Regions from separate parts of the Homo sapiens genome. Here region 1 is linked to region 2. The links come from fine-mapping of genetic effects on gene expression. A gene starts in region 2. The other region holds a variant in brackets. All regions are shown on one strand. Distances are from middle to middle.

What was found. PIP is the estimated chance that this variant, and not a neighbour inherited with it, causes the effect. A credible set is the group of variants that fine-mapping cannot tell apart.
Region 1: its variant is the best candidate, but not a certain one, in a credible set for the expression of IFT25 in B cells (Fairfax 2012, PIP 0.74).

What each region holds. Positions count from the first base shown.
Region 1 is chr1:53,912,301-53,917,300 of GRCh38, reverse strand. It overlaps a transcript of IFT25 not described here. Among named protein-coding and RNA genes, the nearest start is that of DIO1, 21 kb to the right of the region's middle. The variant G/A (reference allele first, on the strand shown) is at 2,062.
Region 2 is chr1:53,943,257-53,948,256 of GRCh38, reverse strand. IFT25 (intraflagellar transport 25) reads left to right here and starts at 2,558. Exons shown (of 6, transcript NM_016126.4): 1 at 2,558-2,702. It overlaps LRRC42 (leucine rich repeat containing 42), which reads right to left and starts at 1,907. Exons shown (of 9, transcript NM_001256409.2): 1 at 1,708-1,907; 2 at 436-469. RefSeq lists a silencer at 1,592-2,661.

The DNA.
Region 1 (5,000 bases), 31 kb after region 2:
AGGGTTAGTTGAAGAAGCAAATGTGGCAATAAATTATTGAATCTGGGTGATAGATATATGGAGGTTCATTGTAGGAGTATTTCTACTTATATATGCTTTAATTTTATTTATTTTTTTTTTTTGAGATGGAGTCTTGCCAAGTTTTTCTTTTTTTTTGAGATGTAGTTTTGCTCTTATCCCCCAGGCCGGAGTGGGATGGCGCTATCTTGGCTCACTGCAACCTCCGTCTCCCGGGTTCAAGCGATTCTCCTGCCTCAGCCTCCCTAGGAGCTGGGATTACAGGCACCTGCCACCACACCCAGCTAATTTTTTTGCATTTTTAGTAAAGATGGGGTTTTGCCATGTTGGCCAGGCTGGTCTCGAACTCCAGACCTCAGGTGATCTGCCCACCTCAGCCTCCCAAAGTGCTGGGATTACAGGTGTGAGCCACTGCGCCCGGCCCGGAAAAGCAAATTTTAAATGGAGAAGAGTAGGAAAGGCATTTCAAAAGCCACCTTGGTATACCAGATAAGAGATGTGAAGGTGAGTAGTCATTCATAATGATGAATTTGGGGAAAGATGAATAAAAAAGTCTGAGTAGAGCAAAAAGTGAAACTAAAACTGAACATTACGGCTAGATCACAGGCTTTCAGGTATTTTCTTGTAACACTGGAACCATTTAAGGTTTTTGAGAAGGAATGTGAATTATAGCAATTGTGTTCATGTTCAATAAAATGAAATGCTGAGCATTTTCTTTTTGCCAAGTTTCTAAATTGAAATGGCAATAACTCTTTGTGTAAGAAACACTGTGTTGAGGCTTACAGATTGCTAAAAGGGATCTCCAGAGGTTATCTGATTGATTTCTTTGGCACAGGCCTGGTGAGTTATCTTTAAGTCTTTTTTCTCTGTCTTCTGTGGATGCAGGAAACAATTGATGACTGTAGAACACCCATTTCATATACGGTATTTGAAAACAGCATGCTTTAAACTTCATTTTTCTAGGCTTTAAAAAACTCATTCTCATTATCACCTTAAACCACTCCACATTTCAGGCAATAGATATGATATGTAGCTTTACCTTTTTGCTTTGTTTTGTATTTCACTGCTGAACTACCCCAATCACCTCTTTTTTTTTTTTTTTTTGAGAGCAGGTCTGTTGCCCAGGCTGGAGCGCAGTGGCACAAACACAGCTCACAGCAGCCTTGACCTCCCAGGCTCAGGTGACCCTCCCACCTCAGCCTCCTGGGTAGCTGGGACTACAGACACATGCCACCACACCTGGCTAATTTTTTGTATTTTTATAGAAATGTGGTTTCACCATGTTGCCCAGGCTAGTCTCGAGCTCCCAGGCTCACAGGATCCTCCTACCTTGGCCTCCCAAAGTGTTGGGAATATAGGTGTGAGCCACTGCTCTCAGCCCCTCACCTTTTTAAACTCTCATTTGTCCTCAACTGGCATCCTCTTTCCCTTTCATGTGGCCTTTTCTCCACCTGCCCATGGACTCCTGACTGCCACTGTGCTGTGTGTACTATGTATTGAGGCCTTTGTGTTTGCTGTTTCCTCTGCCTGTAGTGCTCTTGCCACTGGTGTCAGTATAGCTGGCTTCCTCATTGACATCAGGTCCTTACACAAAATTTCCTTCTCAATAAGCCTTTCTCTGGCCTCCCTATTAAAATTAGAGTGTTCCTGCACCTTACCCTCGCAAGACAAACACATTAAATCTTTCTTCCCTGTTTTATTTTTCTTCTTTTCTTAGGTTAGGGACCTGACGCAGTCACCCTGTGTTCTGTATTTAGGAGTTCTTATACCTGACTCTTCATTTCTATCATTAAAATTCCACTTAAATTTTTTTCTTTTAATGATATTAATGATGGCCCAAGTATCCTTTGAAAGATGAGGGCAGTGCCACCTGCATTCAGGTGTGATCCTCTTGAGTAGGAGATTTAATCCAATTGAATTACTCGGGGCTCTCTCACCCTTATAGGGACAGCCCTGCTTATAACTGTCTAACGTATTTTTTCTGTTTACCATGTATATCATGTTTATCATCTCTCTCACTAGAATGTAAGCTCCCCAAGGCAG[G/A]GGGTTTTTTTGCTTCTGCTCATGACTGTATCCTCAGGGCTTAGAATAGTGCCTGGCACATATATTCTCAAGAAATATCTGTTGACTGAATAAGTGAACATCGTTCATTTATTTGCACGCCTATATCTCTTTATACTGTAGAATCTTTGAGGAGCTTTGAATAAAGCTAGTCAACAATATATGAATTTTTGGATCACTTACTGTGGACCAATGCCTATCACAGCGCCTTGCATAAAGTTTAAACCAGTAAATACTTATTTAAAGCGATGGATAAAAAAGTAAAAATTTAATGACCTTTTTACCATGTACCAAGTCTAGGCAAAGAAATATTACAGAAATGAAAATTGTGTTTATCACTCATTTATACAGATTTTTTTTTATAGCATATTGCATTTGTTGAGCCCTCTCTCAGGAATGCCTCTCTGCAGGGGTCAGGCTGGGGGAGGCATCCTTTGTGGGCTTCACCTTCTAGGTGATGTTCCAGCAACCCTTTGTAACTTGACCCTGATAGCCTTCTGGGAGATAGTGTGTGGCAGTGTACATCAAAGTTTTAAACATGCATGTAGTCTTTGACACAGAAATTCCATTTCTAGAAATATAGCCTAATAATCAGATAAAGGAATATACAAAGATAAGTGGACAAAGTTTATAGCAATGATGTTTATAAGACAGAAAAACTGGAAACTACTACGCAGCCATATATTAGAAAGTATGATATATACAAACATCATTTTATAATGGGATATGAATTTTATATATATACATATATATGTTTATAAATATAAAAATGGATACTTCTGGTTAAAGATGATGGGGTAAAGCGATTTTTACTCCATCCCCTTTCTCAAAACATTCACAACAAAAAGAATTATAAAAAGAAAAACATTTTATCTTCAAGGAAGCAGCTATAATCCCTAACATCAAAATGGGACGCCCACTCACTAAGTACTGTGAAATGAGGATTTTGGTGAAGGAAGAAGCTGAGAACTGGCATATGTTCTCTCAAAGCTAGAGACTTTATTAAACGTGTCATGGTTATGAAAGGCTTATCCAACAGTCCCTTGATTAGATTGAAGAGGGCTGCAGGTGGCTCAGGAGGATGGAGAATGTCTCCAGAGAGCCTCGAGGTTAATAACAGAATGGCAGGGAAGATGGAGCTGGAGAGAATCAGGCAGGATACACCAGAGGAGACTGCTGGAGGTAAAGCATGATGAAGGAAGTTGTCTTAGCTCCAGCTGCTGTAACAAAATACCATAAACTGGGTAGCTGAAACAACAGACATTTATTTTCTCACCACTCTGGAGGCTGGAAGTCTGAGATCAGGGTGCCGGCATAGTTTCTGGTGAACCCTTTCTTCCTGCGTTGTAGGTAGCTGCCACCTTGCTGTGTGCTCACACGAGCTCTTTGTGTGTGTGTGCAGAGAGTGCACTCTGGTGTCTCTTAAGGGACACTATTCCTGTCTTATCAAGGCCACACCCTTATGACTTCATGTGATTTTCATTACCTCTATATAGGCCCTGTCTCCAAATAAAAGGAGGTTAAATCTTCAACATATGCATTTTGGGGGTTAGAGGGGCACAATTCAATCCATAGCAGAAGGTGAAAAAGCATCCAAAGTAAAGGGAGTGTAACTGAAGGGGATTTCCCTGAGCCCCATCTCAAAGGAAGGAATTTAGTTAATAATAGGCTACTCAAGACAGCGAATGTCAATGAAAGTTGCAGATTGCGCCACCTGACTCCTCATCCCACACTATGTTTCAGCAGATAACAAGCCCCACTAATGAAGACTCATAATCAGAAAAGACCCAGAAGGGGACTGCTCTGGGTCAGGTTCTCTAGAAGCAGAGCCTCCAACAAGGATTCTTTGAAGAGTGATTTATTGAGGGAGCGCTCTCAGGAGAAACCTCTAAGGAAGTGAGAGAAGCAGGATCAGGCAGAGGGAAAAATTAAACATGGCTTCTGCTGAAGTCTAGCCTCAGTCTGATCCCATAGGGAGCTCTGAAGCATGACTGGCACCGGAGAAGTAGACTGCCCCACCTTGCAGCAAGGGAAAAGGCTTTGGAATTTCAAATCCATCAGTCACTGGCTGTGGGCCACACTCAGGTGAAGGACATAATTTCACAGGTATTTCTGGGTAAGATAGCTCCTGTCATGAGGGCAAATTCTCAGGAAAGAGTGCATCTGTGAGCCATTAGCAGCCAACACTCACAGCAGCTGGCTCATGAGTACAATGGCTTGGTAAAAGGCATCTGGGCAGAGCACCAACAACACCTACTATAGCAGCGGTTCTCAAAGTGTGGTTCCTGGGACAGCAGGATCAGCCTCACCTGAGAACTTGTTAGTAATGCAAATTCCCTAGCTCAACCTCAGATCTGTCGAATCGTAAACTCTGGAGATGAGAACCAAGAATCTGTGTTGCAGCAAGCCCTCCAGGTGATTTTGTTGCATGCCCAAGTTTGAGAACCATTGAACTACACTGGCCTATGGCTAGCAACTGTAAAACAAAAGGATTGGAATTGAACCCAAACCTCTTGCAGTCTCCTGCACATAGCCCTTTTCCCACCTTTGCCCTTGTAGTTCTCCTCACTTGAAATGCCCTTCTCCCTTCCCATCTTCTCCAGGCTCCCATCCCAAATTATGGAAGTACTGGGCATCTTTGAAGACCAGCTCAAATGCCACCAGCTCCAAAAAGCATTGTTGGATTCACCCAGCTCAGAGGATTGCTGTCTCCTCTGTGCCCTCTGAGCACTTAGTCTTCACTCTAACATATACTCCACCTTGAGTTATGGTCATTGGAGTGTATGTCTGGTCCCCTGTGAGATTAAGCTGCTGGAGGACAACAGCTCTTCCTCGTCCATCTTTGCATAACTCTGCACCCAGAAAAGAATCAATGCTCAATGTTTGATGCATTAAGTTGAAGAGAATCTAATTGGAAAGCC
Region 2 (5,000 bases):
GAGCTGAATCTACGGCTAATTTGAAGAGAAGAAGAAGAAAATATCTAACTTCAGTAGATAAAGTAAGATAAAAATCCCCTAAGAATAACAAGTTGTAGCAGTAACTATGATGTTTAATGATACTGGATGATGGCTACCATTTATTAAGCACCTACCAGTTGCCAAGCACTGTGTTAGGTACTATATAAAATGATCTCATGTAATCTTTAATGATCCTATGAGGTCAGTATTGCCTTTTAATAGACAAAGAGACCCACGGAAATAAAATAACTTACTCTAGAACAGAGCTAATAAGTGGCAGAGCCAGAATTCAATCTCAGGGCCGCATTACTCCAAAGCTCAAGCTCTTTCCTTGGCATGATGCTGTTTCTCAAGACTAAAAATATGACATCAACCTTAAGGATAAAAAAAATGTGAAAAATTAATCTCACCCACCTGTTCGATCCCTCTAGTATTCACTGGATGAAGCCTGGGGGGAGGGGGTGGGGATAAGATTAAAAAACAAAAGCAAACAAAAAAACAGTGCACATCTGGGGAAAGAGCTAGTGGGAACACAGCCAGGACATTTACAACGAGGCCTCCCTTCTTCCCTCAGCCAGGCCCAAAATGAGCTACATCCATATACCAGGAGAACATCTGCCAACCCATGGCCTTCATCCCAAGGCTGCAGACACTTTTGGTTTATCTGAAAATGCAGTATTCTTGGGAAAATTTCTAACATAAAAACCTAAACAGAAACTAAACTATGGGTAGTTCTAAACCACCAATAACCAACAATCCACCTTCATTGTTCTGTGTGTCCCCATTCTTCAATTTTCAACTTTCCTCACTACTTTTTTCCTATAATATGCACTTTCCTACCTGCCTTCTCACCCATACCCTTTCAGGCTCCCTACTTCCCTCCAAGAACATGCCAGTCTCTCCCACAACGTGACACTCTTACCAATTCTAGCGCTTCTCACACCAAAAATCCTAACCCCACTCCCTTCGCCCACCCCAGCTCTCCTGCCCCTTTCAACCTTCAGACCCTTCCAGCCCTTCCGAGCCCCTGGTGAAAGGTGGCTTGCTGTCCCACAGACCCAACCTTCCAACCTCCGATCTCCCAACCTTCACCTGCCTCCCCTTCCTTCCCCACACTCCTCCACCCCCCACTCCTCTCCTTCACCATCTATTCTTCCCTTCTTCCCACTCTAGGGGCTTCCCTCTCCTAGGACCCCAATCTCTCCATCCCTTTCCTTGCCTTCTGTTCTCAATCTTCAAGACCCTCTTCCTTCACGCCTCACTATCCCCAACTTGGCATTCCACACCCCCAACTTTTCTTCCCTGCCCCCAAGACCCCACCCTCTCTATTCCTATCCTATCTCGTTTCCTCCTTGAACCCCTAAAATCCCATTCCCTTCCCCCTTCCTTCTTCCCGCTCTCTCCCCAAGCATGCCTCTCCCCGAGTCCACCCAGGCTAATCCTGCTCCCTGTCCCACCCAGGCCCCGAACCCCAATTCTCACACGTCCCCATAGCCTGCCCCCGCACCCCTACGCCACCCTTAAACCCATCGCCCCCACCAGTATACCTCATCCTCCCCTCAACCCGCGCCCCGCCGTCCCTCTGGGGCGTCCCCTCCCCCACCCCGCCCCTCCCTAACACCCCGCCCCCGCTCCCACACGCAACCCGGGGCCCCGCGAGCGGCCCGGCCCGCGGCCGCCACCTACCTGTGCCCCTGCCCGGGGCAGCGAGCGGCAGCTCCTCGGTGACGGCTCCCTCCTCCCGCGGCCCGGCTGACGGGGAAGGGCTCAGCACCCCGGGCACAAAGCTAGGAAGGGTGGGACACAGTGAAGGTGGGAGGAGGGAGGGGGCTGGGGGCAACCAGGCGCCGTGGGACCGCGGGACCGGCGGGGGCGGGAGCAAGGCTGGGCCGGGGAGGCGCGCGTGCGCGGGCCCCGGCACGAAGGCGGGGCCGGACCTGGAGGCGGGGCCAGGCCCAGGGCAGGCGACCCGAGGGCCGAGGGTTTGGAACTCGCAGAGGTGGGCCCTGCGCGTGCGTGCTCGCGGGAGGGTGGGTCCCCTGGGTCCTGCGGGCCCCGGGGATAGAGCTGAGCTGGGGGAGGGTAGGCAGCGCGCGCCCCGGGACTGGCCTGGGGAAAGGCGCACAGGAGTGGTTTCGCATCTTGGCCCGCGAAGTAATGGGAGCCGGAGAGGGCGGGGCCGATTGTGGGCGGGGCCTGTGGGAGGCGTGGCGCTAAGAGCTAGGGGTAGGAGGGGCCGAGGCCGCCGCGAGGGGGCGGGGCTGAGGCGGGGTGGGGCCTCTGGGAGGCGTGGCGCGAAAAGCTCGGGGTAGGAGCGAGCGCGCCCGGGAACTCGGTGGAGCGAGCGCGCCCGGGAACTCGGTGGAGGCCGCGGTGGCGGGGTGGGGCGGGGCTGAGGGCAGGGCGGGGCCTGTGGGAGTCGTGGCGCAAAGAGCTCGGGGTAGGAGCGCGCGCCCGGAAACTCAGCGGTGGCCGCGGCGAAGGGGCGGGGCTGAGGGTGGGACGGGGCTTGTGGGAGGCGTGGCGCGAAGATTTCAGAGTTGGAGCGCGCGCGACCCCGGACTCCACGGAGGCCGCGGCGAGCAGGCGGAGCTGCGGGTCGGGACGCTCTGCGTGGGGCGGGGCGCAAGGGAGGTTTCGAGCCCGGAAGGTCCGGCGCCCAGAGCTAACGGGAGTCCCAGGTGAGCGGGTAGCGGGGTAGGCAGGCTGGCACCAGAGGGTATGGGGGCCTGGCCGGGCAAGGCAGAAGGACGGGGATGTTGGTGGGAAGGGAGCAACAGTGGAGGGGTGGTGAAGAGACGCGCGGCGGGAGGCGTGGAAGGGCCGCGGCGGGAGGTCTGACGCGGGCCCGCCTTTTCCTCTAGACCCTGGAAGCGCCACTACCAGCCCACGAAACTCTTTGAGGCCAGAAATAGCGTCTTGACCCCCCAAAAGGGAAAACCAGTTGTAAATCGAAATTAATTAGTCTACCAAAATGTAATGTAAGCTGTCAGCCGCAACGTAACACATCTAGCTATAAATTGTACCTAAGGTCGGGGGCATTTATATATTCTTTACATAATTTGGGGCGGGCCTCCACAAGTCTGAGGCTTTAGGGCCTTGAACTGAGGAGGAGGGTTTGGGATGGAGGTGAGAAGGTGGTGCCAGGGCTGGTTTGCCTTGGAAGCCGTGGCCCTGGCCCCTCGGAGACAGAAGCCTTAGGCCGGGTCCGTGTTTTCTAAAGTACACCACGTTCCCAATGGATGATGCTTGAAGAAAGAGCGTGAGGAGTCCAGCTGTAGCACCAGAACCAAGGGAGCTGGTCAGGGAGAAGGTCCTCTAAGGACTTGACCTGAAGAGGTTTGGGGAAAGAAGGACCACAAAGGGCATGTGAGCTAGCGATGAAAGGGTGAACTGGGGACGAAACCAGTGGCACTGGTTTAGAAGACAGGATAAGGCATCAGGGAATACCAGGGTCAGGGATTGTAAAAAATGGAAAGGATAGCACCCCAGAGTGTACCACCTTTGGTAAACTGCGGCCCTGAGGAAATTGCCTTGCTCTAAAGGGGTGGGGGATTAGACTACCTCCCAAACCTGCACTTTGTTTTGTTTTTTGGAGACATAATCGCTCGTCGCCCACGCTGGAGTGCAGTGGCGCGGTCTCGCCTCACTGAGCCTCCGCTTCCTGGGTTCAGGAGCTTCTCCTGCCTCAGCCTCCGGAGTAGCTGGGATTACAGGCACCTGCCACCACACCCAGCTAATTTTTATATTTTTAGTAGAGACGAGGTTTCACCATGTTGGTCAGGCTGGTCTTGAACCGCTGGCCTCAAGTGATCCGCCTGCCTGGGCCTCCCAAAGTGCTGGGATTACAGGCGCCTGCCACCAGGTCCGGCTAATTTTTGAATTTTTAGTAGAGAGGGTTTTGGGGTTTCACCATGTTGCCCAGGCTGGTCTTGAACTTGTGAGCTCAAGCTGTTCGCCCACCTCGGCCTTCCAAAGTGTCAGGATTACAGGCGAGTCACCAGGCCTGGCATTGTATGGATTTCTCTAAGGTTGGTTGCCTCTTCTCATTAACTGCAACAAAGAACCTTAAAGAAAACCAAGTCTCTGCCGTTTCTACTTAAGTAATTCTACCCAAAACAGGAAATAGGAAGGGTAATGGTGAATATAGAAGGTGTGAAATGAGTTTTGTATTAAAGCATGTGTTTGCTTCTCTCAGAAAACTTAAGAATGTGAGGTAAGAAAAGAACTGAACATTTGGAGAGTACATTCTTTCCTATTCATCTGCTCCATATCAACCCTAAAGTGTAACTCTCTTTTAAAAAACAAGTTATCCGCCGGACACAGTGACTAGCTTCTGTAATCCCAGCACTTTAGGTGGCCAAGGCAGGCGGATCGCTTGAGCTCACGAGTTAGAGACCAGACTGGGCAACATGGCAAAACCCCATCTCTACAAAACAAAAAAATTAGCCGGCCGTGGTGGTGCATGCCTGTAGTCCCAGCTACTAGGAAGGCTGAGGTGGGAGGATCGCTTGAGCCCGGGAGGCAGACGTTGCAGTTAGCCGAGATCGAGTCATTGCACTCCAGCCTGGGCCATAGAGCCCAGACCTTGCCTCAAAAAAAAAAAGTTCTCTCCCTACATCTCCAACCCTCACATTTCCACCGCCAAATAGATTACTGCATAGTTTCCCCAGCTTTACACTATTTATACTTGGGACCAATAATTACTTGAGGATGTGCTGTCCCGTATATGATGGTATATTTAGCAGCGTTCCCTCCCAAGTTGTGACAGTTAAAACTTCAGATGTTTTGAAGTGTCCCTTGGAGGCCAAAATCTACACCCAGTCCAGTTGAGAACCACTGGAGTACAGGATAAAGTTCATTGCCATTAACCTGGCTTTTCAGATCTTTCATTATCTATTCCCAATCTACCTTTCCTAAAATCTGACTCAGCCTAAGAGAACTACCAATGCAGGAATCCTTTCTTTGGCTTCCTTCGT